3 separate regions of the Homo sapiens genome follow, and regions 2 and 3 are each linked to region 1. Evidence: fine-mapped expression QTL. A gene starts in region 1. Each other region holds a variant in brackets. All regions are shown on one strand. Distances are between the middles of the regions.

Region 1 (10,234 bases):
ATGCAGATGAAACAAATCAAGGTTTCCAAAGCGCCCTTGGTTCTCTTAAACCTTTTCTCCCTTAAGGCCACGCTGAGTAGCCTCATCCGGCTGCCACCTCCTCCCAGTGAGTCTCAGATGGGGCTGGGCGCAGCCTGGGCTGAGAATTCTTCTCTCCCTGCCCTCTGTGAGTCTGCAGGGGGTGTGGCCCCGCTCACAGCTCCACTGCCTCCCTCTGTTGCTGGGGCAGGAACCACCCAGTCCGAGCACCTTCTCTGGATCACTTATGCTGTCAGCGGTCAGTCTGAACAGAATGAGTAAATGAATAAAGGTGGCGGCCTGCGTGTTCCTGGGCCTCAGCCTCTGCTCCCGTCTGCACACGGGTGTGCATGTGTTCTGTCTCTCTCTTACACACGTGCACATTGGGCAGTTGATTCCCCTGGAAACAGTGCAGCAGGAAAGGGGACCCCTGAGTGGCTCCAGGTGGGAGTTGAAGGAGGCATGGGTGGGGCGCCTAGCGCAGCATGAGACAGGTGAGGGCAGGCCCCAGGTGAGGCTGGCTGTATCAGCTCATTCCGGCTTCACGCCATGTCGGGCAGTTCACGGTTTGGGTAATTACAGAGCAAGAGTGTGCTCATGCTGCCTGTGGCTGAAGGTGCTTTCCTTCCTTGGAGAGACAGTGTGGAGTGTGTGGACAGAGCACGGCTCTAGGATGGGACGGACTAGGGCTCCTGGCTAGTGGACACCTGCCTTACAGGTGCTGGGCACAGGAGGCAAGAGGGCATTCTGGAAACAGCATGTCCCTTAGGGGGCCCTTGTTCAGGCCAGTCCTGCCCCTGCCTTATCCTGATGGCCAGGCTGTGGCTCCATGGCAGGGGTACCCCTTGGCCACACACCAGTACACCCAGCCCAGCTCCAGGGAAGGGTGGATTTTGCTGGCTGCTGTGCCAAGGAGCCAAGACAGACATCCAAACAGGCCTTAGTCAGAGGGTAATTGACAACCAGGCCCAACCCAGCAGCTAAGAAAGCAGCCACCCCTGAAGACCTCTCCTGAATACTTAAAATGTGGGATGAGGCTGTGTGTGGGGGGGGCGGGTGCCAGAATCCCAGCTGGGGCTGCAGGCTGTCTCTGGAAAGTCACCCTTCACGCTCAACACTCAGTGTCTTCCTTGTGAAATAGAAACTTGATCCAAGTAAATTTCAGTTTAACTTTCATTCAGAGAAAACTTTGATATTTTGGCTCAGTGGTTTCGAAAGCTTAGAGATTTTTGTCCAAGTTAGACTTGAAGGAGTAGATATTTTACAAAGTGAAAGCTAAGACCTCTCATCTGGCAAGCCCTTCCTTCTTGGTTGTGTGTGGTTCGGCAGGCTTAGCGTGGTTTGTGCGTGGTTTGTTCTGCTTCAGTGTTCTGGGTTTTGTTATAAGACAAGGATAACTAGATGTTTGGCACCAGGGATGTTAGAGATGAGTAAACGTCCTTCCTCACCTGAGATTCAGCGAAGCTGCTCAGGGGTCACCATGAAAGCAAGAGCCTGCTTTTCTTTTCTTTTTTTGAGATGGAGTCTCACTCTGTCGCCCAGGCTGGAGTGCAGTGATGCAATCTCGGCTCACTGCAACCTCCACCTCCCGGGTTCAAGCAATTCTCCTGCCTCAGCCTCCCGACTAGCTGGGATTACGGGCACCCGCCGCCACGCCTGGCTAATTTTTTGTAGTTTTAGTAGAGACGGGGTTTCGCCATGTTGGGTAGGCTGGTCTCGAACTCCTGACCTCAGGTGATCTGCCTGCCTTGGCCTCTCAAAGTGCTGGGATTACAGGCATGAGCCACCGTGCCCGGCTGCTTTTCTGTGTGACCATTGAGCTCTTTCTCTGAAAAGTGGGAATGGTATTTTTCCTTGAGTCTTAAGTGGTGATACCCTAAAAGAAAGTCCCCTTCCAGCAAATGTTTGCATGTACACCATATGCCTCCTGGGAAAATTGTGAAGTTACATCTAATCCCTGTCCAACCCTGTAGGGAATCATCTAGTGTCTCATTTGATTCCCCCAGGTGGGTGGGGGCACAGCCTCGGCAGGGGAGCAGAGGACTGCAGTGAGGCTGGCCGGCTACTGTGCCCACTTCTTCCCCTGTGGTTTCCTCTCTCTGCCTCACTTTTCTTATTCATGCAATGGGGTCTGTCGGGTTGTTGTGAGGATGAAATGAGATAATGTGTGTGTGGCATGTGGATTCCTGATGCCAGCTGCAAGGGGTCCAATCTTTCTGGTGGGAAAGTGTACCTGCTAGGATTATAATCCTGTGTAGAGTCCCAAATAACAGTTCTTCAATAAGACAGACATGATTCCTCTCTCATATAAACACCCAGGGGTCAGAAGTCTGGGGCTATTCTGTTGCACAAAATCCTCCAGGCTCTAGAGTCCCTCTATCTTTGCTTCACTGTTTGAAGCCTCTATTTCCAAGTTACCTCACAGTCTAAAAGGCTGCTCCAACTCCAGCCATCACATCTGCTTCCCAGACAGCCTGAAAGAGTACAGGAGGAAGGAGAAAAGGACAAAGGCTCACGCAGGCTCTCTCTTGAGGAGATTATTTGCGGCAGCTGCCCAACACTTGTATTTACATCTCACTGATGAGAACTAAGTGATGTAGCCACAGTTAGCTGCAGGCAGTCCAGGAAATGTATTTTTTTTTTAAATTTTGGGCAGCCAGGTACCCAGCTGAGTCAAGTTTTCAAGCATTCTCTCACAATGGGAGAAGGAGGGGATGAATATTGGGGTACTCCTGGGAGTCTCGGCCAGATTAGCAGGATCCCCCCACGTTGCTTCCCTTTATTTTCTTTTAGGCCCCCCTCCCCTACATCACGGTTAACCTACAAATGCCTGGACCCTCAAACTGCCCCTGGCTGTAGGGTCCCTCCCCTCCAGTGGCCCCTGAAACTCCAAACTCTTCCCAGCTGCTCCTGCTCCCGCCCTCCAGGCCTGGCTCTCAGCTCCTTATGAGGAAAGCAGGCTAATTCTGAAAAGGAATATGTTTTGGGGTGCCCGGCAGTGTTGCTGAGTCCTAAAGGTGGGCCCTGGAAGGGAGAATCCCAGACTCCTTGATGGGTAGGGGAGGGTTTTAGGCAGAGCATCTTTGGAGGGGCCTCTGGGCTCAGGCTGTGAGTGGGCAATGCTGATGCATGGTCCTGTCTTCTGCAGGCTCCCAAGGTGAGGCGGCAGAGTGACACCTGGGGACCCTGGAGCCAGTGGAGCCCCTGCAGCCGGACCTGTGGAGGGGGTGTCAGCTTCCGGGAGCGCCCCTGCTACTCCCAGAGGTAGGAGAGATGAAAATGGGCCAGCTTGTTAAAGCAGGAGCAGGGGATGCTGCCTTCTGGGTGGTGGGCTAGGTGGTCGTGGCCTAGGCTAGCACTGGCCACATCAGCAGAACCCACCAAGGAGCAGATTCATTCTGGAAGCAGCATCAGTTCAGCGCAGGAAATCAAACCATTTCCCAGGGCCTTCCACTCTGAGCTGGAGCACGCGTGCTGCCTGTTGCCCCTGGTCTCCAGCTCCTGATGCTGCACCGGCCTGCAGTATGGCAGGTGCAGTCAATTTTGCTGGAACTGGTAAATAATCTTCAACCGGCAGTTCCCAATTCCTGTGGTTTCTTTACCGAGTACAGATGTTCCCCACTTCAAGCGATTTATTAAATGCTTGCTGTGTGTGCTGCACTCCGGCAGGGTCAGTGGAGAAGGTGGGGCACAGAAGGAGTAGTGAGGTGCCTCTGTCCCGGTTTGTATAGGGGTTGTTCCTGAGAACCCTATGTGAGGAGGAATGAGAGACCAGGAATGATCCTAAGAGCCTTATACTGATGTCCTGCTTAGATCGCAGGATGGCTGTGCCAAGCGGGTGGGTATTATATCTCATGCACCTCGGGTCTTCTCTGGGAATCTGCCTAAGATGCAGTGGAGTGGTCCCGCCTTAAATCCAAACTATAGGGTGGGTAGGGCTCTGAGTCCCGCTTCTCTGGAGTACCAACATGGGTCGCTCACTCCCACCTGGGGGATTTACGGGGTGGGGTCGGGGGACACCCTCTCACCTTGCTGCTCCCACTGGAGAGTCCCGCAGAAGTTGGGGCCTGCAGAGAGCCCCAGAACGGGGGCAGGGACGTTGGGTCTCGGTCAGGTCTTCCCGGTGCTCTGGTCCCGCAGGAGAGATGGAGGCTCCAGCTGCGTGGGCCCCGCCCGGAGCCACCGCTCTTGTCGCACGGAGGTAAAGCTCACGGGGCGCGGGCGAAGGCACCAGCTTCCCCAGCCCCTCCTGGCCGATTTCCCCATTGGGATGCCCGCTCCTGGCCGCGGGCTGCTGGGTTGGCCCAGCCTGGGGTCCTCCCGCCAATCCACAGCAGGGCTGCGTGGGGGCCCCTTCCTCACCCTGCTCCCGGGGACTGGCCTTGCCCTCCACAGCCTAGAGCACCATGGAGGGGCACGCACAGGAGTTCGGGGGTCCGGGGGGCGGACTCCACCTCCGGCGGCTCCGATGGGGCAGGCAAGGGAGACTCCTGGGCTCCCTGGGCTCGGGCGGGGCGGGAGGTGGGCGGACCTCGGACTCCGCCCTCCTGGATCCCGACTTCCCCTCCGCCCCGCAGAGCTGCCCCGACGGCGCCCGGGACTTCCGGGCCGAGCAGTGCGCGGAGTTCGACGGAGCGGAGTTCCAGGGGCGGCGGTATCGGTGGCTGCCCTACTACAGCGGTGAGCGCGGCCGGGACTCGCTCTCTCGGGGCCTCTTGTATACCTACGTTGATGCCACAGTTCCTATTGCCGTATTATAGAGGCGTTGTCATATATATATATATTAGAGACAGTCTCACTGTGTTGCCCAGGCTGGTCTTGAACTCCTGGGCTCAAGGGATCCGCCGGCAGCGACCTCCCAGAGTGCTGGGATTGCAGGCGTGAGCCACTGTACCCGACCAATTTTTTTTTTTTTTTTTTTTTTTTTTTTTGGGTGGGCGCGGGGGCTCGCAATGTACAGGAAATCTTGTAGACCACAGGACCCACCTTTGGGGAGGAGAGGGTCTGCAGAGGTCCCTCGAGAGAGAGCAAGAGGTCTCTCTTTTTCTTTATCTTTTTTTCTTTTCTTTCTCTCTCGTTCTCTCTCGCTTGCTCTTTTTTCTCTCTTCCTTTCCTTTCCTTTTTTTCTTTTCCTTTTTCTTTCTTTCTTTTTTTTTTTTTTTTGAGACAGGATCTTGCCCAGGCTTGAGTGCAGCAGTGTCATGTCAGCTGGGCAGCATGTACCTCCCAAGCTCAATCAATCCTTCCACCTCAGCCTCCCAAATAATTTTTAAAGTAAATATGGAATGCTTCATGAATTTGCATGCCATACCAGCTAAGGGGGCAGGGGCTGTGCTAATCTCTGTATCGTTCCAATTTTAGTATATGTGCTGCCAGAGCCAGCATTTGTCAAATACCCCATCGATCAACCCATAATGAATCAATCACCAGTACCCCTGCTCCCCCCAGCACATGCCCGTGGCAACACCATGGCAGCCATTTTGAGGTCTTTCCATCCTTTCTCCCCTTATGTATGTATATTTTCAAACGAAGCTATGGTGTGTCTATACCATTTTGAGCCCTGTTTTTGCTCAGTCTGCTATGGGAAGCGTTCCTCCCGTCGCACAGAGACGGAGATGGGGAACCCCGGGAGCGGTAGCAATGGTGCCCCACGGTCATCCTGCAGGAGGGGCTGGAAGGGGCTTGGTACACCAAGACTTCATTTATCAAGGATCTGGGGGCCAGAGGAGATGGTCTGTGCACCTCTGAGGAGGGTATAAGTCATTAATTTTTAGAGAAATACAGTTCAGGGAAAAAACACCCAGGTAAGCACCAACATGTATGTCATTAAGCATTTTAGATGAATCAGAAGATTCCTCAAGACAAGTCTTCTGAGTGTTCGTTTTCCCTGCTTGCGGCAAATGACCTCTGGAGACCCTGTGGCACTCTAGATTCCAGATCAAGGAGCACTTATATTCTCTCTGTGTGTGTGTGGTGGGGATCGTGGCTGTGGGCATGGCCCAGTGGGAGTCTCATATCCTGTGTATGTGTGTGTGTGTGTTGTGGGGATCGTGGCTGTGGGCATGGCGCAGTGGGAGTCTCATGTCCTCTGTGCGTGTGTGTGTGTGTTGTGCCGATCGTGGCAGTGGGTGTGGCCCAGTGGGAGTCTCTTATCCTGTGTGTGTGTGCGTGTGTGTGTGTGTGTGTTGTGGGGATCGTGGCTGTGGGCATGGCCCAGTGGGAGTCTCATGTCCTCTGTGCGTGTGTGTGTGTGTTGTGCCGATAGTGGCAGTGGGCGTGGCCCAGTGGGAGTCTCTTATCCCGTGTGTGTGTGTGTGTGTGTGTGTGTGTGTGTGTGTGTGTGTGGTGGCGATCGTGGCTGTGGGCGTGGCCCAGTGGGAGTCTCATATCCTCCGTGTGTGTGTGTGTGTGTGTGTGTGTGTGTGTGTGTGTGTGTGTGTTGTGGGGACCGTGGCTGTGGGCATGGCCCACTGGGAGTCTCATATCCTCTGTGTGTGTGTGTGTGTGTGTGTGTGTGTGTGTGTGTGTGTGTGTTGGGATTGTGGCTGTGGGTGTGGCCCAGTGGGAGTCTCATATCCTCTGTGTGTGTGTGTGTGTGTGTGTGTGTGTGTGCGCGTGTGTGTGTTGTGGGGATCGTGGCTGTGGGCATGGCCCAGTGGGAGTCTCATATCCTCTGTGTGTGTGTGTGTGTGTCTGTGTGTGTTGTGGGGATTGTGGCTGTGGGCATGGCCCAGTGGGAGTCTCATATCCTCTATGTGTGTGTGTGTGTGTGTGTGTGTTGTGGGGATTGTGGCTGTGGGCGTGACCCAGTGGGACTCTAGCTTTCAGAATTCCCCCTGGATCCTGAAGTGGACACATGTCAAAAATAATTTGATTATAGTCACATGATAGAAAAATTGGAACACAGGGGAAAGTCTAAAAAGAGAGTAGAGGGATACCTTCCATGGTATGGAGATGATTATAATCCTGTTTGTACTTTTGGGTTGTTTTAAAATGTGTATATATTTAGATAAATATAAAAATTAAGGTAGGGTACAGTGGCTCATGCCCGTAATCCCAGCACTTTGGGAGGCTGAGGCAGGAGGATCACTTGAGTCCAGGAATTTGAGACAAGCCTGGGCAATGTGTGAAACCCCATCTCTACCAAAAATACGAAGATTAGCCAGGCATACAAAGATTAGCTAGGCATGGTTGCACACCCATGTAGTCCCAGCTATTCGAGAAGCTGAGGTGGGAGGATCACTTGAGCCCAGGAAGTTGAGGCTGCAGTGAGTCAAGATCACACCACTGCACTCCAGCCCGGACGACAGAGTGAGATCTTGTCTCCAAAAGAAGAAAAAAAAATTAAAACCAGGCCAGGTACAGTGGCTCCTGCTTGTAATCCTGGTGCTTTGGAAGGCTGAGGCAGGAGGATCATTTGAGCCCAGGAGTTTGAAACCAGCCTGGGTATCGTAGTGAGACCCTGTCTCTACAAAAAATAAAAAAATTAGCTGGGTATGATGGCATGTGCCTATAGTCCCAACTATTCGAGAGACTGAGGCTGGAGGACCACTTGAGTCTCGGAGGTAGAGGCTGCTGTGAGCTTTGATCGTGCCTCTGCATTCCAGCCTGGGAGACAGAGTGAGATCCCATCTGAAAAACATTAAAACCAGAAAAAAGTTATCCTCATCCTGCCCCTTTCACAAGATCACTGTTAGCATTTCATTTTAGCCCCTTTCACATTATTCTCTCCATATATGCTTACATATTTGTAATTATTGCATAGTAATCACCATTTTGCATTCTGTGTTTTAAGCATCTTCCCACACCATATAGTCTTCACAATCATCATTTGTAACTGCATAGTCAGCATGTGTAATATTCCATTGATAATTTATTTAAAGAGTAGCCTGTTATGGCCATGCACAGTGGTTTACACCTGTAATCCCAGCACTTTGGGAGGCTGAGGCAGGTGGATCACCTGAGGTCAGGAGTTCGAGACCAGCCTGCCCAACATGGTGAAACCCCATCTCTACTAAAAGTACAAAACTTAGCCGGGTGTGGTGGCGCGTGCCTGTAGTCCCGGCTACTAGGGGGGCTGAGGCAGGAGAATTGCTTAAACTAGGGAGGCGGAGGTTGCAGTGAGTCGAGATCGTGCCACTGCACTCCAGCCTGGGCAACAAGAGCGAGACTCCACCTCAAAAAAAAAAAAAAAAAAAAAGTAGCCTGTTGTAACCACCTCAGCTGTGGTAAATAATGCTGAGGTAGACTTCTTTAAGTGTTTCACTTTTTCCTGATTCTGGGATTTTTCTTCGACTTGATCCTTAGAGGTGCAACAGATTCATGGAGACGGTCCCTTCTCCTGGGGATGGGGCGGGGATCTGTGCTCTGCGGGGCCTGCTGCAGGGCTTTCTGACCCATGCTTTCCTGTTGCTAGGGTAAGCCTTGGGTCTTGGGGAGGGGCATCATCAACCTCAGGATCTCAGTCTTGCCTTCCTGCCCACCCCAGCCCCAAACAAGTGTGAACTGAACTGCATTCCCAAGGGGGAGAACTTCTACTACAAGCACAGGGAGGCTGTGGTTGATGGGACGCCCTGCGAGCCTGGCAAGAGGGATGTCTGTGTGGATGGCAGCTGCCGGGTGAGTGGTGCCCCAGCCCCTCCCTGCCTCCGGGCTGCCTGGGGGCTCAGTGCGGGTGTTTCCCTGTCCATCACCCATAGGCCCAGGTAGCTGCCATGAGCTTGGTGTCTTCTCAAGTTACCAGGACACCAAGCCCAGCTCCTAGGGTACCTTGCAGGCATCACAGATGCCCTATGGCCCCTCACCTTCATCCTTGGAGAACGCTAGCCCTACAATAAGAGAAACCCTCTGGGTGGCAGAAATCCGGCTAAAACCGACTTCAGAAAAACAAACAGCAGGGACAGCCGCAGGCGCATGAATGAGGTGCCACTCGGCTTTCCTCTCCTTGGGTCCAGCATCAGGATCTGGCCCATTCTTCCCAGGAGGTGTGGAGGTGGCCGCCAGCTGCTCCGACCTTCTGCTCCCTAGAAAGGGAATTCCCAGGGAAAGGGGGCCTCATTCCCAGGAGTTCTAGCCACCGGGGGTTGTCTCTGATTCGTCTTGGTTTGGGACTTACCCTGAACCACTCCAACCTCCCCAAACCCACATTTGGGGAGCTCCGTTCAAACTCTGCGGGAGAGAGGTGGCCCCTCAAGGAAAACAGGGCATTATTACCAGAAGGGGAGATGGGAGCTGAGCAGACAGAGAAGTGGATTGTCAGCCACAGGCCAGTCCCCTGGCTGGTGGCTGAATCACTCCCGACCACCCTATCCTGCCTGGGCTGCGTGGGTGCTGGGGTTAGGATGCGACGGGGCCCAAGGCCTGATGTGGCCATGATGCCGTCTCCCCTGCCTCCCGCATCTCTGCCCACAGGTTGTCGGCTGTGATCACGAGCTGGACTCGTCCAAGCAGGAGGACAAGTGTCTGCGGTGTGGGGGTGACGGCACGACCTGCTACCCCGTCGCAGGCACCTTTGACGCTAATGACCTCAGCCGAGGTGGGGGTGGTTCCGACAAGGGGCAGTTGCCTGCCCCCTTCCTTGCCTGTCCCTTCCTTGCCTGTCCCTGCTCTGGCCTAGACTCCAGGCCAAGTGGCCCTCATGGCACTGGAAGGCTCTGATCATATCAGGTCACATCTGAAAGGCCCCCTGTGGCCTTTGGTTAGGACTCGTGCCCGCTCGTGCAGTCCCATCTCCTGCTGCCACCGCCTGGATGCCCTCCCCATCCCTTCCCACTCCCAGTGTGCTCCGGGTGCCCTGAGCCTTCCCGCCACCCTGGCTTTTGTACTGCGGCCTCTTCTGCCAGGGTTGCCTTTCCCAGCAGCTCGGCCCTGTCTGGCTCTTGTGTACCCTCCCTGCCCCCATTCTGTGCTGTGTGGCACTTGGAGTCCTGTTTGAGTGGTGCCGGGAGAGGGATAGCCCAGCACACCCAGCACCTGCGTCTCTGCCCCCAGGCTACAACCAGATCCTCATAGTTCCCATGGGTGCCACCAGCATCCTCATCGACGAGGCTGCTGCCAGCAGGAACTTCCTGGGTGAGAGCCTAGGGTTAGGTCCTAGGCAGGTCTGGGGCTGCAGGGGGAGGTGCGGCACTGCTCCCTCTGGCTGACTGAGGCGGTCTCCTCTGCGCAGCTGTGAAGAATGTTCGTGGGGAATACTACCTCAATGGGCACTGGACCA
Region 2 (10,234 bases), 160 kb before region 1:
GATCCGCCCACCTCAGTCTCCCAAAGTGCTGGGATTACAGGCTTGAGCCACCATGCCTGGCATAGAGGCATATTTAATACAGAATAGGCAGGATAGATGCACTGGCTTGCTTTCTTAAAACAATGAGTTGCTATCCTCAGCATTCTCTAGCAGTGACTGATTTTCTTTTTTCTTTTGAATTATTGTGAACTTAGGAATTGAAGCATATTTAGTGTTATTGTATTTAATATGGATTCATTGTAGTTATTATCACCATTAAAGCTTAACTTAAATTGTCTCTGCACTTTACATCTCCAGTGGTTTTGACATGACCCTGAACACCTTTGACAGCTGCTTTGTTATCTGGTATGACAATTTGTTCTAAGGTCATCTAGTATAATAGGTTTTCGGCCCCAGACTTAGAATCAGCCATTTCTCCAGGGGAAATTGTTTTGAAGATCACGATCTGGACACTAGGTGCACTCATATTAACAGTGGTTTGGGATGGGTGTGGTGGCTCGAGCTTGTAATCCCAGCACTTTGGGAGGCTGAGGCAGGCGGGTCAAGAGATCAAGACCATCCTGGCCAACATGGTGAAACCCTGTCTCTACTAAAAATACAGAAATTAGCTGAGTGTGGTGGTGCGCTCCTTTAGTCTGAGCTACTCAGGAGGCTGAGGCAGGAGAATCGCTTCAACCCGGGAGGCAGAGTTTGCAGTGAGCCGAGATTGCACCACTACACTCCAGCCTGGTGACAGCGCGAGACTCCGTCTAAAAAAAAAAAAAAACAAAACAGTGGTTTGGTGTTTGCTTTTAGGTTTTTCCAGTGTATACTAATTCAGATTCAGGACTAAAAGGTTTTTATTTAGCCTGTTTTGTCATATATTTGTATCTCCTTTTTCCCCACACTGAGGTCCCCGAGTTTCAAGGCCATTGGGGATGATAAACTATTAATTACTGAGTTGCTTTATCTTGCATTGCACATATAACAGTTTCACACTAACAACATTGACACTATCATCAGCAATATGATCATTTAAAATTACTTTTCTTTTTTTTTGAGACAGGGTCTCTGTCTGTTGCCCAGGCTGGAGTGCAGTGGGGCAATCTCAGCTTACTGCAACTTCTGCCTCCCGGGTTCAAGCAATTCTCCTTCCTTAGCCTCCCTAGTAGCTGGGACTACAGGCATGTGCCACCACACCCAGCTAGTTTTTGTATTTTTAGTAGAGAGAGGGTTTCACCATGTTGGCCAGGCTGGTCTGGAACTCCTGATCTCAGGTGATCTGCCCGCCTCTGCCTCCCAGAGTGCTGGGATTACAGGCATGAGCCACTGCGCCCGGCCTAAAGGTACTTTTTTGAGGGGCATATCTGTTTGTCTTTATGGTATATCACACTGAAATGTCAAATTTACTATTTTAATATCAGTAGTTTTTTTCTGTTTCCTGTCATTATATACATATTTAGATTTATTTGATTTTATTTTCAATTTGTTGGTTGCTCTTCTTAGATTTAATTTTGTTTTAATATTTCTGTTAAAGTCATCTTAATAGTGAGATTGACTAGTTATAAAAGGAAATAGATGTAAGTAAAATAGACTGGTAACTAGGATACAAATTCTGTAATTTAACATCTCAGAATTGAAAAGTGCATTGTTTGTGTTCCTGCAGTCTGTTCTTTCTTGTGGCTGTTTGGAAGTCTAGATAGGGTGAATTTATGAAATAATTGACTCCTTTCTTTTTTTTTTTTTTTTTGAGACGGAGTCTCGCTCTTTCGCCCAGGCCGGACTGCAGTGGCGCTATCTCGGCTCACTGCAACCTCCGCCTCCTGGGTTCACGCCATACTCCTGCCTCAGCCTCCCAAGTAGCTGGGACTACAGGCGCCCGCCACCGCGCCCGGCTAATTTTTTGTATTTTTAGTAGAGACGGGGTTTCACTGTGTTGGCCAGAATGGTCTCGATCTCCTGACCTCGTGATCCACCCGCCTCGGCCTCCCAAAGTGCTGGGATTACAGGCATGAGCCACCGCGCCCGGCCAATTGACTCCTTTTAATCATGAATTTCATTGACTCTGCTAAATATTTTATTAGAGCTTCTAATGAGTAGCAGTTTGTCTGATTTGAATTTTTCTTCCTCTCTGTTTTTCCCTTTTTTTCCCCTTTGGTTGTTTGAGGATACTAAAAGTGAAATGGTTATCAAAGGGAATTGGTGGACAGGGGTGGAATTATGAATTGAGTGGTCTTTGTATTAAAACATTTGGACTCTAGTGATTCTACTTTTCCATAATTTTTTTTCTTTTGTAAGTGAATTGGTATTTCACTAATTGTTTTCATCCATTGCTAGCCTTCGGATTCTGTGAGTACAAGGAGCCAGAATCTACCCTCCGTGCACTCAGATTATTACATGACCTGCAAATTGGAGAGAAAAAGCTACTCGTTAAAGTTGATGCAAAGACAAAGGCACAGCTGGATGAATGGAAAGCAAAGAAGAAAGCTTCTAATGGGGTATGTTTTCTGTCGTGTTATCTTTTCTAGGCCAGACTGTGCTATTTCAGTGTAGTGCTTCTCATTATAAATGAATCTAATATGGGGCTTCAAAAGATCATCATGTATGTGCTTGTGGCTTAATGTAGGAGGGTATTTTATAGTTTGTAGTTATTTTAAGTCTTATCTGCCCATAGTGGGTGGATGACTGTTGGTTTGCTTGTTCCAGGTTGGGATGAAAGTAGTAAGGGAGGCTGGACAAGGTTAACTTGCCAGAGAAAGCACTGGTACAGACTATTCCAAACAGAGCTAATTCATTAAGGCAGCTTTGTAAGTAAGTACAAAATATATTTCAACCTACACAATTTTTATTAGTTTCCCTCTCTTTTAGAAGTACACCGACTCTAAAATGAATGAAAGTCTGATTACTTGCCTTAGGTTGGGGGCTTTATCCAAGCTCTACTAAGTGAAGCTAAAATAAAGGACATTGTTGTATATTGTATTTTAATGTATACATTATTACCTCCTCAGCAAAGTGAAACATAGCTAAAACTTGAGTATATATTTCCTTCATTTCTCTTCTTAGTTCCTTTTTGGCATCTCATGCTGAACAAATCCAAAATAGATTTATTAATGCCTTCCCCCAACACAAACAAAACCAGAAGAGTCTTTCGCTGTCGTCAAATTTTTATTATCTTTCAAAATAGAAATCGCTTTTTGCTGGGCACGGTGGCTCACGCCTGTAATCCCAGAACTTTGGGAGGCAGAGGCGGGCAGATCACCTGAGGTCAGGAGTTCGAGACCAGCCTGGCCAACGTGGCGAAACCCTGTCTCTACTAAAAATACAAAAAATTAGCCTAGCGTTGTGGTGGGTGCCTGTAATCCCAGCAACTCAGAGGCTGAGGCAGGAGAATCGCTTGAACTGCAGAGGCGGAGGTTGCAGTGAGCTGGGATCTAGCCATTGTACTCCAGCCTGGGCAACTAGAGTGAAACTCTGTCTCCCTGCTGCCAAAAAAGAAAAAAGAAATACCTTTCATGTTCCCTCCAAGTTCTTTGTTAAAAAAAAATAAAAACCAAACCCAAAAAACTCACAAAATGAAGCAAAGTATAAATAATCAATTAAATACCACCTGTAATCCCATCATCATAAGCAACACTGTAGGCGGTTTGGATGTATGTTCTTCCAGACATTTTTCTGTGTATGAATGTGGTTCATTTGTTTTTTGTTTTTTTTGAGACAGAGTCTCTCTGTCGTTCAGGCTAGAGTGCAGTGGTGCGATCTTGGCTCACTGCAACCTCTGCCTCCCGTGTTCAGGTGATTCTCCTGCCTCAGCCTCCTGAGTAGCTGGGATTACAGGCATCCACCACCACGTTCAGCAAATTTTTGTATTTTTAGTAGAGATGGGGTTTCATCATGTTGGCCAGGCTGGTCTCGAACTCCTGACTTCAGGTAATCTGTTCTCCTTGGCCTCCCAAAGTGCTGGGATTACAGGTGTGAGCCACCACACCTGGCCAAATGTAGGGTTTTGTTTGTTTGTTTGTTTGAAATGGAGTTTCCCTCTCTTGCCCAGGCTGGAGTGCAGTGGTGCGACCTTAGCTCACTGCAACCTCCACCTCCCAGGTTCAAGTGATTCTCCCTCCTCAGCCTCCCAAGTAGCTGGGATTACAGGTGTCCGCCACCAGGCTCGGCTACTTTTTGTATTTTCACTATGTAAGTGAGGCTGGTCTTGAACTCCTCACCTTAGGTGATCTGTCTGCCTCAGCCTCCCAAAGTGCTGGGATTACGTGTGAGCCACTCCACCCGGTCAGCATTGCCTGTATTTCTAAAACATAAGTATAATTTTATGAAACTCTTGCTTATATTATGTGAGACCCATCCTTAATGGTTTTGGATTTCTTACAGAAAAAAGTACCCCCCCTCTTTTTTTTTGATGCAGTCTCGCTTTGTTGCCCAGACTGGAGTGCAGTGGCGAAATCTTGGCTCACTGCAACCTCCACCTCCCAGGTTCAAGCGATTCTCCTGCTTTGGCCTACCGAGTAGCTGAGATTTTAGGCACCCGCCACCACCCCCAGCTAATTTTTATGTTTTTAGTAGAGGTGGGATTTCTCCATGTCTTCCAGGCTGGTCTTGAGCTCCTGACCTCAGGTGATCCACCCACCTCGGCCTCTCAAAGTGCTGGGATTACAGG[C/T]GTGAGCCACCGTGCCCGGCCATAAAGTCCATATTTTTAGGATGACATTCAAGGCTCACTCCAGTCCACGTTTCTAGCTTCCGTCTTCCCTCCCCTGCACATACTACTGCATGTACCTCCACAGTCTTCCCTTTTGCTTTGCTGGCATCTCATGTCTTTGTTGCCTATCCAAGCTCCCTGTTGAAATTCTATCCATACTTATAATTAACATGTCCCTTGATTCATACAGACTTTATCAGCCTGCCCTTAGTTTCTGTCAGACAGAATTAAGTCCTCTGTTCCCATATAAAGCAGATCTTTATAGCTGTTTTAGTAGATATTGTTTATATATCTCTCTCTTTCACAGCCCCTTGTAACCCATCTCATTCCCATATTCTCTTTCAACCCCCATCTCTGATTACAGATAGAAAGGGTGATAAGTTTGTGGGCTGTGTCTCTTTAATCTTGTACCTCCACAGCATCTAGGACAGTGTCTTGCCTAAAGCAAGGATGGAATTAACATTTGTTAATAGACGCTTATCTGTCAGTCTTACTATCCTCACCCTGCTTCATAAGGAAATTATATTTTATTTATATTTTATTTCAAATCAGTAATACTGCCTGTCACATCACTAAAACCTCAAAAAACAGAAATGTTTGAAATAAGAATTTTCAGGTTTGCCTTGTGATAACTGTATACTAACTAGTTGAAAGTATGGATTCAGTATCTTCAAAGTGTTCTGATTTGCTAGGACTCACTGTTTTCTTGTGTTTAATCTTCAGTTTGTGAGGTCATTTAATTTGTAGCATTTGCAAATGTTATACTGAAAAACTCTGAGAATGAAATAAGTCACTATACTACGTATTTTTATAAATAAGGAAGTGCACAATTATGTGACTTCACATTTCTTGCTTGCTTGCTTTTTTTGGGGTGGGGACAGAGTGTTGCTCTGTCACCCAGGCTCGAGTGTGGGGTGGTGTGATCTCTGCTCACTGCAACCTCCTATTCCCAGGCTCCAGTGATCCTTCTGCCTCAGCTGGGACTACAGGTATGCACCACCATACTGGCTAAGTTTTATATTTTTTGTTGAGATGAAGTTTCACTGTGTTGTCCAGGCTGGTCTTGAACTCCTGGGCTTAAGTGATCCACCTACTTCAGCCTTCCAAAGTGCTGGGATTACAGGCAGGAGCCACTGTGTCCAGCTTACATTTTTTGTATAATCAACATTAGCCAGAGTAACCACACTTTAGATCTGTTGGTCTTCAGGAAAAGCAATATGTGTCTGGATGTGGTGGCTCACACCTGTAATCCCAACACTTTGGGAGGCCGAGGTCGGAGGATCACCTGAGGTCAGGAGTTTGAAACCAGCCTGGCCAACATGGTGGAACTCCATCTCTACTAAAAAAAAAATACAAAAATTAGCCGGATGTGGTGGTGCACACCTGTAATCCCAGCTACTTGGGAGGCTGAGACAGGAAAATCACTTAAAACCCAGGAGGCGGAGGTTACAGTTAGCTGAGATTGCGCCACTGCAGTCCAGCCTGGGTGACAGAGTGAGACTCTGTCTCAAAAAAAAAGCGAAGTTACATGCAATAAAATCACACAGAAAAATTATTTTTAATAAAAAATTAAAACAATTGACAGATATCAGTTATATGATTTATTGTTCCAACTGTTATATGTGTATTTCTGAGTGCCCTTTGGCTTCTTGCCCGGTGGTACTTGAAGTCATAGGATAAACATGGCATATTTTCCTTAAGTGTCAATATTACTCAACAAATATAGGTTAAAAAAGCATTCTATCTGATGTAAAAAAAAATTTTCAAATAACTTAAGCAAATATTACTATATAGTGGAGTAGATTAGAGATTTGCCATGATTTTTTTTTTAAGGGTGGTGGGGGGTGTAGGGAGAGATGAAAGTCGGAGAGTGAGAGATTGGAGGGAGGGAGCAGGGGGAGGGGAGAAGATGGTGGGGGTGAGATGGGTGGCTACTGCCGCCATGATTTTTCAGTATAAAAATATGACATGGTGATTGTTTTTTATTCTTGGTCGTTGATTAGTTGGAGAAATTTAGAAAGCTGTTAAGTAGAGGATAGGAGAATGAGACATTGAAAACCCTTTGTGTTGCTTTATTAGGCATTTTCCTCTGAGGCAGAAGAGAAAACAATTAGTTCCTTATTTCTCATTGACTAAAAAGGAAACATGAGTTTGTCTAGGGGAGCAACATATTTTTCATGATCCAGAATTTTTTTTTAAATTTTCTTGCCTTTTTTTTTTTTTAATTAAGTTTTAGGGTACATGTTCACCACGTGCAGGTTTGTTACGTATATATACATGTGCCATGTTGGTGTGCTGCACCCATTAACTCGTCATTTAACATTAGGTATATCTCCTAATCCTATCCCTCCCACCTGCCCCCCAAAATTTTCTTTTTTTTATGAGATGGGGTCTCGCGTTGTTGCCCAGGCTGGTGTCGAACTCCTGGGCTCAAGCAGTTCTCCTGCTTCGGCCTCCCAAAGTGCTGGGTTTACAGGCATGAGCCACTGTGCCCAGCCAGATTCAGAATTTTAAGAAGAATTTTGCGCATGTGTAAGGTGTCTTGTCAAACAACTTGACTGAACATTTTAATTTAGATTTTGCAGAATTTGCAGGTGTAACTTTTTTTCTTTCCATTTCTTATTGACCTCTAGTAGTAAAGTATTCCATGTGAGGTGGCCATGCTAATTTAGTTCATGTCCTATTGCTTTCTGGCTGTCCAGCAAAAATAGTATAGGAGACAATATATCTGCTTGTATGTCACAAGTCATAGTTATTAACCATATATTCAAGAATGAACACTGACAAGTGCTGGAAAAACAGTTATTCTCTGGAAAGAACCTATTTAATAGAGGACAGCTGCTTCAGGGGAACATCTTTGGAAATTAGCCTGGCTGAGTACATTTTCTCAAAAGAAAGAACTCTGCATTTCCTTAAATTTTTTAAAAGGTTCGTACTTTGGATTCTAGACCTCAGTGCCAAAGAATGAGCCCAGCAGAGCTGTTTAACTTCACAGCTACTAGCTTTACTATTGAAATTTTAATTTCTCTGAAAAGAACCAACTAGGTGGGCCATGTAAACATTACAGATAATCTGTCAGCTTCCTATATGGCTGAATCCTTCACCTTTTGTTTCCCAGTATTACTGATTATGCTTTCTGGTTTCTCCCTCTCTGCCCACCGAAGTCTCACTCTTGTCGCCCAGGCTGGAGTGCAATGGTGTAATCTCGGCTCACTGCAACCTCCGCCTCCTGGGTTCAAGCGATTCTCCTGCCTCAACCTCTTGAGTAGCTGGGAGTACAGGCACCCGCCACCACGCCTGGCTAATTTTTTGTATTTTTAGTAAAGATGGGTTTCGCCATGTTGGCTAGGCTGGTCTCAAACTCTGGACCTCAGGTGGTCCACCCGCCTCGGCCTCCCAAAGTGTTGGGGTTATAGGTGTGAGCCACCGCACCCGGCCATCTGGTTTCTGAAGTATAAGAAAAAAACAGGAAATCAGAAAATCGTGTATAGTTGATATTCCAGAGATAGAGCTTTAGATGAAACTTGCCAGTCTGTGGAGTGGTCTTTCTAACCTGATCATCTACCATGATCAGGTTTTGTTTTTTTTTTTTTTTTTTCTTGAGACAGAGTCTCACTCTGTCGCCCAGGCTGGAGTGCAGTGGCGCGATCTCAGCTCACTGCAAGCTCCGCCTCCCGGGTTCACGCCATTCTCCTGCCTCAGCCTCCCGAGTAGCTGGGACTACAGGTGCCCGCCACCACGCCTGGCTAATTTTTTTTGTATTTTTGGTAGAGACGGGGTTTCACTGTGTTAGCCAGGATGGTCTCGATCTCCTGACCTTGTGATCTGCCTGCCTCGGCCTCCCAAAGTGCTGGGATTATAGGTGTGAGCCACTGCATCCGGCCTAGGTTTTTTGTTGTTGTTGTTATTGTTTTTTTTTTAAATATTAGCAATCAGTTAAGATTTTTGGGTTAATAAACTTTTCTTCTAAAAATGTGAATTAGTTAATTCCAAATGCTTTATCTCTAATAGTAAAATAGCCATATTGATATTTAAATTTTGGTTTACAGTGGAAACAATAATCAATTTAGGGTCTATAAGGATTTTTTTTGTCTTTTGAGACGGAGTCTTGCTCTGTCGCCCAGGCTGGAGTGCAGTGGCGTGATATTGGCTCACTGCAATCTCTGCCTCCCGGGTTCAAGCCATTCTCCTGCCTCGGCCTCCCAAGTAGCTGGGACCATGCCCGGCTAATTTTTTGTGTTTTTAGTAGAGACGGGGTTTCACCATGTTAGCCAGGATGGTCTCCATCTCCTGACTTAGTGAGCCGCTGCACGCGGCTGGGGAATTTTTGTATTTTTTTAGTAGAGACGGGGTTTCACCATGTTGGTCAGGCTGGTCTCGAACTCCTGACCTTGTGATCCGCCCGCCTCAGCCTCCCAAAATGCTGGGATTACAGGAGCGAGGTGTGTGTGTGTGTGTGTGTGTGTGTGTGTGTCTGTGTGTGTGTGTGTGTTTTTGATGGGGGTGGAGACAGAGTCTCGCTCTGTCTCCCAGGCTGGAATGGAGCAGCATGATCTCTGCTCACTGCAGTCTCCACCTCCTGGGTTCAAGCAATTCTCTTGCCTCAGCCTCCTGAATAGCTGAGATTACAGGCACATGTCACCATGCCCAGCTAATTTTTTGTATTTTTGGTAGATGGGGTTTCACCATGCTGGCCAGGCAGGTCTCGAACTCCTGACCTCGTCATCTGCCCACCTTGGCCTCCCAAAGCGCTGGGTTGCAGGCGTGAGCCACCGAGCCCTGCCAAGTGGTTAGTTTTGTAATAACATGTAATGCCTTATATTTAAGTTATCTGTGTCATAACCCATCTGTTACTCTGTAGTGATACAGCTTGAGGAGAAGAGAGCGTTTTTCAATTTGGATTTTATTCCGTCTAAGTGCAGCATCTTTCTCACAGTATGCTCTTAAGAATTTGTTGATGGGTGTGGTCGTCACGCCTGTAATCCCAGCACTTTGGGAGGCTGAGGCGGGCGGATCATGAGGTCAGGAGATCGAGACCATCCTGGCTAACACGGTGAAACCCCCATCTCTACTAAAAATACAAAAAAATTAGTCGGGTGTGGTGGCGGGAGCCTGTGGTCCCAGCTACTCAGGAGGCTAAGGCAGGAGAATGGTGTGAAACTGGGAGGCCAGAGCTTGCAGTGAGCTGAGATCACGCCACTGCATTCCAGCCTGGGCAACAGAGCAAGACTCCGCCTCAAAAAAAAAAAAAGAATTTGTTGAGCAAATTAATTTAAGAAATAAAATGTTTGTTGAATACGTATCCATTGGAGACAGCTTTCAGAATGCTTGTGGTCAACTTATAAAGTTACTGCTAAGTTACATTGTTAAGGAGGCACAAGGCATGAAACTCACCTTGAATAGAGTTGCAGGAATTATGACCAAGAGCCAGGCATGTATGCACATGAGCATGGTTCTTGTATGTATCTGAAAATGTGCACGGTATATGTTTACCAAGTAAGTCGTTAAAAACTTTGGGGCATGCACAACTATTGTAGCACAACTATTGTA
Region 3 (10,234 bases), 170 kb before region 1:
GCTGAGATCATGCCACTGCACTCCAGCCTGGGCAACAAGAATGCAACTTTGTCTCAAAAAGAAAAAAAAATCAGAACAACTGTTTATGCATGTATATTATGGAATAGAATGCAGTACTTTAATAAGCTATTTTAGACATTATGCTTGTAGTGGAGCTGCTTTACGCTGTGCTTCTAGATAATCATGGATGTATATTTGTTATCATCTGCTGCCAGAAGAGTAATGTAAAAGTTTACACTACTGCTTTATTATCCCATGTAACAATTACTGATTTTAAGTAGTAACTTAGTTGTTTTATAATGGACCATAAATAGACTAAATTCTACTGGAAGGCTCTAGCTGGCCCTTTGGACAAAGTTTTTTCTTAAAATGAATTTTGCTGAAAGGAAATTCTATTGAGAAAATTGAGAAAATGTTGCAGAAAACTGAATAAAGTTAGTTATCAGCCATCAAACAGATTAATAGTTATAGAAGGAAAGTGTTTTGAACAACTTTCATTTGGGCTTCAGTTTTCTCTTTGGTCCGTATATCCTGATTTTCTTCATATATTTATAGGCTCATAATGCAGTTCTGGGTTTTAATTTTTAATTTATTAATTTTTTTGAGACAGGATCTCTCTTTGTCTCCCAGGCTGGGGGTACAGTGGCATAACCATAACTTAATGTGGCCTCTATCTCCTGGACTCAACTGATCCTCCTGCCTCAGCCTACTGAGTAGCTGAGACTATAGATGTGTGCCACCATGACTGACTCAGATCCGTTTTTCGATGGGCCTTACCATAACCATGATGCAAAGCCCGAGTGTTCTAGAAGTTATAGGCTGGGCATGGTGGCTCATACCTGTAATCCCATCACTTTGGGAGGCTGAGGGCAGGAGGATTTCTTGAACCCAGGAGTTCAAGATCAGCCTGGACAACATAGGGAAGAAAGACCCTGTCTTGTGGGGAGGTGGGGGGTGGCAGTAAGCTTAATTGCTTGTTTAGAATCAGAAAAGATGGTTATGGAGAATCTGTGCTTTAATTTCCTTACCAGTAGATTGGGTTTATAGAAAAGATTTTAAATTTCTTTGATTTTTTTTTTTGTTTGTTTTGCTTTTTTTGAGAGAGTCTCACTCTGTCGCTGGAGTGCAGTGGTGCCATTACAGCTCACTGCAGTCTCTGCCTCCTGGGTTCAAGTGATTCTCCTGATTCAGTCTCCCTAATAACTGGGATTATGAGTGTGTGCCACCATGCTCGGCTAATTTTTGTATTTTCTGTAGAGATGGGGTTTTGCCGTGTTGGCTCAAGCGATGTGCCTGTCTTGGCCTCCCAAAGTGTTTGGATTATGGGTGTGAGCTACCGTGTCCCCTCACTCCCTGCCTTTTTTTTTTTTTTTAAATAAAGAAATGGAGTTTTGCTATGTTTCCTAGGCTAGAGTACAGTGGTTATACACAGGCACAATGCTAGCACACCGCAGCCTTGAACTCCTGGGCTCAGGGATCCTTGTGCCTCAGCTTCCAGAATAGCTGTAACTACAAGCATGATTTTATTTATTTATTTATTTTTTTGGTACAGAGTCTTGCACCTGTCCCCCAGGCTGGAGTGCAATGGTGTGATCTCGGCTCACTGCAACCTCTGCCTCCCGGGTTCAAGCAATTCTGCCTCAGCCTCCCGAGTAGCTGGGATTACAGGCACGCACCACTACGCCTGGCTAATTTTTGTATTTTTAGTAGAAACAGGGCTTCTCCATGTTGGTCAGGTTAGTCTCAAACTCCTGACCTCAGGTGATTTACCCATCTTTGCCTCCCAAAGTGCTGGCATTACAGGCGTGAGCCACTGCGCCCGGCCCATGATTTTTATTTTCTGCGAAAGAGCCAGGAATAACAAGATTCTTCTTAGATTTACACATAAATTTCTCATCTCATGCTTAAAATAACTGTCAAAAGATTTGTTTTTACTTTATTTGACAAAATTTTATATGTTTATCATGCACAACGTTTTGAAATAACATATGTTGTGGAATGACTAAATTGAGCTAATTAACACTTGGTGTATTACTTTACATACTTATTTTTTGTTGTTGTGAGAACACCCTAGATTTTAAGTGGAGATTTTCTCTTAGTTATTTTCAAGAATATAGTACACTTACTAACTGTATCACCATGTTGCACGACGTGTTTTACCTTTTTTTTGGTCTTTTTTTTTTTTCCTTTTTGTGGAGAACGGGGTCTCACTATTTTGCCCAGGCAGATCTCGATCTCCTGGGCTCAATCTGTCCTCCTGCCTGTGCCTCCCTAAGAGCTGGAATTACAGGCGTGAGCCACCGTGCCCAGCTGTTTTTACTTTTAAAGGATTCTTTAATAGCATTGTTCACCTATAAGTCAGTCTGTATTTGTGAAAGGCATTGGTTTTGAGGATCACCGAACCACATGAACCCGAATGGATAACTATCCAGGATTTTATGCTCTTTAAGTCAAAAGCATATTGAGGTGGCCATTTTGTTTTCAGGATAGTCTTTTTTGTAAGTTTATATGGACCAACCTGATACCACATTCCTTTTGAAAATAAGATAGTATTTATCAGTATTTCACTTTCATTTGTCTTATATTTCCACTTATGTTAATTATGAGTAAGGATACTTAATTGTGTGGCATGTTGTTGATAGAGAATGCAGTCATGTAAAATCAGTGTGGTTTTTCTTTTCTTAGGGACCCCAATGATTCCTGTACCAATGAGCATTATGGCTCCTGCTCCAACTGTAAGTATAACTTAAAGGAGGAATCATGAGTTATGGTAGTGCTAGTGCTTTTAAGCTGAACAGCATGATAAACTTAGATAAATTATGAGTATTTAAAAGAATAACAAGGACAGAATGACAGCACCCCTGTAGAGCATATCATTTATTTGAATAAGTATCATTTTCACTTAGGTGTGCATATATGCAGTTGCCCTTGCAATGTGCTCCCTAAGTAGATAATTCTATGATTTTCCTGTTACTATCTAGACTCTTCATATACTTGTTATTACAAATTTAGGACTTTGGCTCTTCATTGCCTTCTCATCTTGGTCCTGGGAGATGGGAGAAGGATGTGACATGTCTGATCTCTTAAAAGAACATAGGAATCCTTGTAAAAATTAAAATTTTGAAATGAAATTTGTGTGGACTACCTTTTACATGTTTCCTCCTACCTTCCTAAGGTATATGGCCTAAGGCATAAATTTTAAATGTTCAAGACATAGGCCAGGATCACCTGAGGCCAGGAGTTCAAGACTAGCCTGGCCAACATGGTGAAACCCTGTGTCTACTAAAAATACAAAAAATTATCTAGGCTTGGTGGTGCGCGCCTGTAATCTCAGCTACTCGGGAGGCCGAGGCAGGAGAGTCCCTTGAACCCAGGAGGCGGAGGTTGCAGTGAGCCGAGATTATGCCACTGCACTCCAGCCTGGGCGACAGAGCGAAATTCCGTTTCAGAAAATAAAAGTAAAAATTATGTCTTAAACATAACAAAGTTTTCTTGGTTATTTTTGTTTCTTTTTTAAGAAGAAAGGTAATCTAGTAGTAGAAGTTTACTTGTCACAAATAAGTTTGCATTAATGAAATGTGCTATGCACTTTAGGAGCTTTAGAAGTATACAAGCATGCAGAGCTTAAATAATGTGCTATATATATTTATTTAATCCTGATGTTTTTAGCCTAATGTTAATTGTGGTAGGAAATTTAATTGCTGGATCAATTTTTATTTTGTTTCTTCACCTTAGGTCTTAGTACCCACTGTGTCTATGGTTGGAAAGCATTTGGGCGCAAGAAAGGATCATCCAGGCTTAAAGGCTAAAGAAAATGATGAAAATTGTGGTCCTACTACCACTGTTTTTGTTGGCAACATTTCCGAGAAAGCTTCAGACATGCTTATAAGACAACTCTTAGCTGTAAGTTAAACTGTTTATTTTTCATTAAAAATTTTTTTATCATTCTACATTTCAAACTTAAGCAGAAAGAAGACTTTCAGTGATTGCTTTTTATTTTAAAAAATTTCAGTCCTGCAGCAAAGGTGAAAAAGTACAGTGAACACGTTTGTATTCTTTTCCTAGATTCACCAATGAACATGTTTAGATATTTTATGTACACATGTGTACCACACACACTTTTTTCTTGGATAATTTGAAAGTAAATTGTGGCATAACATTTCACCTGTGAATCCTTCATTTATCTCCTAAGAGCAAGGACATTCTGCGACATAATCACAATGCCACTATCACACATGAAATTTGGCCGGGTGCAGTGGCTTTTGCCTGT[G/A]GTTGTCATCCTAGTCCTTTGCAAGGCTGAGGCAGGAGGATCTCTTAAGCTAGGAGTTCGAGACCAGCCTGGGCAACATATCGAGACACATCTTTACAAAAAATTAAAAAATAATAGGGCCAGATGCAGTGGCTCATGCCTGTAATCCCAGCACTTCAGGAGGCCGAGGTGGGCAGATCATTTGTGGTCAGGAGTTCGAGACCAGCCTGACCAACATGGTGAGACCCTGTCTCTACAAAAAATACAAAAATTAGCCAGGCGTGGTGGCGTGTGCCTGTAATCTCAGCTACTCGGGTGGCTGAAGCAGGAGAATCCCTTGAACCCGTGAGATGGAGGCTGCAGTGAGCTGAGGTCGCGCTACTGCACTCCACCCTGGGCGACAGAGCGAGACTCCATCTCAAAAAAATAATGACAGGGATTAAAAAATAAAAATAAAAAAAAAGCCAGGTGTGGTGATGCACGCCTGTAGTCCTAGCTGTTCAGAATCCGAGGTGGGAGAATTGCTTGAGTCTAGGAGTTGAAGGCTGCAGTGAGCTATGATCTTGTAATTGCACTCCAGCCCGAGCAAGAGAGTCTCTAAAACAAAAAAATATATAAAATTGATATAATATTGTTAACTAATGCACATGTAGTTCATATTTAATTTTCCCAGTAATGGCCATAATATTAATAGTTGTTTTATTTTTCATCCATGATCCAATGAAAGATTTTTATTTACTTTTGAGACAGATTTGCTCTGTCACACAGGCTGAATGAAGTGGTGACATCTTGGCTCACTGCAAACTCTGCCTCCTGTATTTAAGTGATTCTCATGCCTCAGCCTCCCTAGTAGCTGGGATTACAGGCGCGTGCCATGACACCTGGCTCATTTTTGTGTTTTTTTAGAGACAAGGTTTCATCATGTTATCCAGACTTGTCTTGAACTCCTGGCCTCAAGCAAACCGCCTGCGTTGGCTTTCCAAAGTGTTGAGATTACACGCGTGGGCCACCACACCTGGCTAGGGTTAATATTTTGAGACTGTGAGTCCTTTTCCCCAATGATGTTAAACAATGATTTTAGCATCCAATGATGATTGACTGATTCCTTTTAAAGTTTTATTCTGAGCTTGAATAGTAATAAGTTGTTTAAATTTGGTAAGCTTGTTGATTCACTTTTTTTACCTTTTTAAGATTTTATCTTGATGATACATGTACATTGTTAAGTGAAATAATGCTGAATGATTGTATAATAAAATAAGGCCAGGTGCGGTGTCTCACACCTGTAATCCCGGCACTTTGCGGGGCCAAGGTGAGTGGATCACTTGAGGTCAGGAGTTTGAGACCAGCCTGATCAACATGGTGAAACCCCATCTCTACTAAAAATACAAAAATTAACCAGGCGTGGTTGTCGGTGCCTGCAATCCCAACTACGCGGGAGGCTGAGGCAGGAGAATCATTTGAACCTGGGAGGCGGAGGTTGCAGTGAGTTGAGATGGCGCCACTGCACTCCAGCCTGGGTGACAATGTTAGACTTTGTCTCACACACAAAAAAAGGAGTTTGGAAGAATGACTATATTCTGCACTGAGAGGATCTGCAAAGATGTCATTCTTCGTCTGTATCCCAGAATCTTGTGTAGGTTCTCTGTAAGGACAGGGCCAGGGTTATCTCAACCTGTGGTTCACCTCATGAGTAGTTCAGTATGAGTCCTGCAATCTTGCCATCCTCTGGAAATATTGTTGCCTGCTCTCCTTATGCCCCTCTGAGATGCTGGGCAATTACTTTACATCATTCATGATTCTTGTTCCTCAACTATTCATATTTAAGAAATTCCTGTTCTTTTAGAAGACTGGATCTCCTGGGCACTCTGTAAGTTTTAATTAACTGGTTTGAGGATGTTTTGGGTTTCTCAGTTTTGTTTTCTTCTATTACTTCCATGGGATTTTTGGTAATTTCAGTCTGAAGCCTGACTCCATTTTTATTCTTGAGTTTTCTCCTGGGCTTCTTTTCACTGTAGCCACAAGGCCTAATCTGAGGTCTGCAGAGAACTAGCACTTACTCTGCTCTAATGGAATTCAGGAAAGTCAGAAGGTACTGGAGTATAGAAATGTGTTTGCTCCTGTCTGCTTCTGGAAGTCTCTGTTTTGCTATGTTATTACTGCTAATGTTTTCTCCCTAGGTGTATGTGAAAAGATTCTCATCACAAATTCTCATAGAAGTGCCGTTTCTGAGTCTTAGGGCATGCTTATCTGCAGCTTTACAAGATAATTCCACACCAATTTATTTATATTTACTGCAGCAGTGTCATGTCCGAGTTTCTATTCTTACACATCTTTTTTTTTTTTTTTTTTTTTTTTTTTTGAGATGGAGTCTTGCTCTGTCGCCCAGGCTGTAGTGCAGTGGCACCATCTTGGCTCACTGCAAGCTCCGCCTCCTGGGTTCATGACATTCTCCTGCCTCAGCTTCCCAAGTAGCTGGGACTACAGGCGCCCGCCACCATGCCCGGCTAATTTTTTGTATTTTTAGTAGAGACAAGGTTTCACCATGTTAGCCAGGATGGTCTCGATCTCCTGACCTCGTGATCTGCCCGCTTTGGCCTCCCAAAGTGCTGGGATTACAGGCGTGAGCCACCGCGCCCGGCCCTCTTACACATCTTTTTTAACAATTGGTGTTTATTTAGAATTTTACATTGTGTTGTGAAATACCTTATTCCTATTTCAATATGCCTTTTTACTGTTCTTCATAATTTTGATATTATCTGTTGACATGTTATGGTAGCTTGAGGCCTAAACTGTTAAAGGCCTCAGTCTCCCTTCCCTACTTCCTTACAGGTGTTACAAGATGGCGAACTTGATAATAAGTATTATTATGTAAATAGTTTTAGCAGAACTAGGTTATGTGCTATGATTGTATTTTCTTTCTTTGGTTTGTTTTCTTTCTTTCTTTTTTTTTTTTTTTATTTGAGATGGAGTCTCACTCTGTTATCCAGGCTGGAGTGCAGTGGCGTGATCTCAGCTCACTGCAACCTCGCCATCCGGGGTTCAAGCAATTCTCCTGCCTTAGCCTCCCGAGTAGCTGGGATTATGGATGCCTGCTACCACACCTGGCTAATTTTTGTATTTTCAGTAGAGACGGGGTTTCACCAGGTTTGCCAGGCTGGTCTGGTACTCCTGACCTCCAGTGATCTCCCTGCCTCAGCCTCCCAAAGTGCTGGGATTACATGCGTGAGCCACTGCCTAGTCCATTTTCTTATTTTAATTTTTTATTTTTTATCTTTGAGACAGAGTCTCGCTCTGTTGCCCAGGCTGGAGTGCAGTGGCACGATCTCAGCTCACTGCAACCTCCGCCTCCCGGGTCAGTGATTCTTCTGCCTCAGCCTCCCAAGTAGCTGGGATTTCAGGCACCCGCCACCACGTCCGGCTAATTTTTGTATTTTTAGTAGAGATGGGGTTTTACCATGTTGGCCAGACTGGTCTCGAACTTTTGACCTCAAGTGATCCACCCACCTTGGCTTCCCAAAGTGTGGGGATTCTTTTCCCTTCTTTTCTAGAGCTCCTCCTGTCAGGTCCCTTTGTTCGTCTCATGTGTTCTGGTTCCTCTAAGTCTACTTTTATCCTTGGATTTTTTTCTGTCTTTTCTAGTATTCCCCTTATTGCTGTTCTGTGTTGGGTGGTTTGGATCCTATATCTTGCTTGTGCCGACACATAGTAGTTCCTGTTATATTGGGATGATACATCCTCTGTATATGATGTACATGGTATATATGGGTATGTGGTTGGTAACTTTTCTGAATCTAAATCTGAAGTGCTTTTTATTTCATGTGGTCAGTAGTTTACCGGGATATAGAATTCGGTGATGAAGCTTATCTTCCTCACATTGAAGGTGCTGCCTTATCGTGTTATAGCATCTAATGATGGTTTTCAGAAGTCCCGCATCATTCTGAATGCTCTTTGTGTGTGAACTGTTTTTCCCTGGAATGCCTCTCCTAGTGAGGATTTGACTGATTGGAGGTTTTAGTTCCTAATTATGTGAAATTCTTCGAATGTTTATTTGATTTTCTTATTTTTCTTATATCATTGTGTTGGTCACTTACTTGGTGGGCCATTTCGTTCTGGAGCCTTTTTTCAGGAGAAAATTTTGAGCTATTTGAGAATTCTTTTTACTTTCTTCAGGAACTCTGTTTGGATGTTGAGCTTCCAGGTTTGACCTATGTGTTTTTGATTTCCTATTTTCCATCTCTTACTATTTTGCACGGGTTCTTGGGATTTGTCCTTAACTTTACCTTCCAGACTTACATTGAAATATTTATTTTTAATGCCATGTTTCAAGTTTCCATTAGTTTTCTCTTGTTCTCTGAAGATTTCTCACCTACACCCTCCTCCTTCTGTCTTTTTTTTAACTGGATGGAACTTTATTTTATTTTTCTTTTTTGAGACAGTCTCATTCTGTTGCTCAGACTGGAGCATAGTGGCATGATTACAGCTCACTGCAGCCTCGATTTCCTGGGCTCTAGCCATCCATCCGTCTCATCCTCCTGAGTAGCTGGGACCACTGGTGTGTGCCACCACGCCCGCCTAATTTTTTTGTTTTTGTAGAGACAGTGTCTCCCTATGTTGCCCAGGCTGGTCTTGAACTCCTGGGCTCAAGCAATCCTTCCACATCAGCCTCCCAAAGTGTTGGGATTATAGACGTGAGCTACACCTCGCTGCTTTTATTTTTAAAGTATAATAGTGTCCTACCGTTCAGATAACCTGCCCTCCTTCACATTTTGGAATATTTCTCTTTATTTTTACAGAAAGCTGTTTTTGTTTATAGTTAGAGTCTTGCTGTGTATCTGCATTTTCTTTTCCCAAGTTATTTTTGCATACCGTATCAAGCGTTTTCCCATGTTAATGGGATGGCTGGGCGCAGTGGCTCGTGCCTGTAATCCCAGCACTTTGGGAGGCTGAGGCGGGCAGATCACGAGGTCAGGAGTTCAAGACCAGCCTGGCTAATATGGTGAAACCCCGTCTCTACTAAAAATAAATAAAAAAAAAAAAACAAAAAACAATTATCCAGGCGTGGTGGTGCCTGCATGTAGTCCCAGCTACTTAGGAGGCTGAGGCAGAAGAATCGCTTGAATCTGGGAGGCAGAGGTTGCAGTGACCCAAGATCACGCCACTGCACTCCAGCCTGGGTGACAGAGCGAGACTCCGTCTCAAAAGAAAAAAAAATCCTTTATAAATACATACATATTGTTTCAAAACATTTCTTTATAGATTCATAATATTTACTTAAATTTATTATAGTTTGTTTTAACCATTCTAATTTTAGGCATTTAGGTTTACGTGTTTATTTTGTTAGGATAAGTAGTGATGCGAAACTTTTAATAAAAGGTAAACAATGTTCTGCAAATGAAGAATCAGTAAGAATTTATATTTTTCTTTAAATGATTTGTTGTTCATTTCTTTCATGTGATAAGTTTGTGGGAATTGCAAAAATTTTCGCAAATGTAGTTGCTGGTTTTTTATTTTATGTTTTTTATCCCTAGTAGAAATATAATTTTGCTTTTAGTTACATTAAAAATTATTTTGTTAAATGGTAGCAATCTGTTTGTTTTGTTTTCTTTTTAAGAAATGTGGTTTGGTTTTGAGCTGGAAGAGAGTACAAGGTGCTTCCGGAAAGCTTCAAGGTATGTCATTTTTTTCCTTATTTGCTGAAATCACTTTAACTAACCTGTGTGCTTAAATCACTTTGCATGACTTAACTCTCATTGTCTTTATCAGTAAGACTTATTTTATTAGCACTCTTTGTCCTCTTTTTTATTGAAATAGGGTTAAAAGGCAGTTTGGGAAAATATTGGCTGAGAATTGAGATCAGAAGGAGGAAAAAGGTGTAAGAGGAAAGGAAAAAATTAAAATTGCTCAATTTAACTGGTTTCTTGTTCTTTCAAAAGTCTCTTTTGTCTCAAGAAATGACTGCATGATCAAAATGGAACAATTAGTAAG

The links.
Region 2: its variant is fine-mapped to the expression of PAPLN-AS1 in whole blood (INTERVAL, PIP 0.96).
Region 3: its variant is fine-mapped to the expression of PAPLN-AS1 in whole blood (INTERVAL, PIP above 0.99).

The regions. Positions count from the first base shown.
Region 1 is chr14:73,241,478-73,251,711 of GRCh38, forward strand. It overlaps PAPLN-AS1 (PAPLN antisense RNA 1), which reads right to left and starts at 4,524. Exons shown (of 2, transcript NR_135248.1): 1 at 4,047-4,524; 2 at 2,541-3,767. It overlaps PAPLN (papilin, proteoglycan like sulfated glycoprotein), which reads left to right. Exons shown (of 27, transcript NM_001365906.3): 3 at 3,167-3,282; 4 at 4,159-4,219; 5 at 4,596-4,698; 6 at 8,507-8,637; 7 at 9,430-9,553; 8 at 10,009-10,089; 9 at 10,187-10,234. It also overlaps the pseudogene RNU6-419P. RefSeq lists silencers at 4,359-4,628, 7,097-7,176 and enhancers at 5,576-5,645, 5,784-6,285.
Region 2 is chr14:73,085,685-73,095,918 of GRCh38, forward strand. RBM25 (RNA binding motif protein 25) reads left to right here. Exons shown (of 19, transcript NM_021239.3): 6 at 2,317-2,477. Among named protein-coding and RNA genes, the nearest start is that of RBM25-AS1, 31 kb to the left of the region's middle. The variant C/T (reference allele first, on the strand shown) is at 4,646.
Region 3 is chr14:73,073,634-73,083,867 of GRCh38, forward strand. It overlaps RBM25 (RNA binding motif protein 25), which reads left to right. Exons shown (of 19, transcript NM_021239.3): 3 at 2,686-2,735; 4 at 3,736-3,903; 5 at 9,861-9,918. Among named protein-coding and RNA genes, the nearest start is that of RBM25-AS1, 19 kb to the left of the region's middle. The variant G/A (reference allele first, on the strand shown) is at 4,271.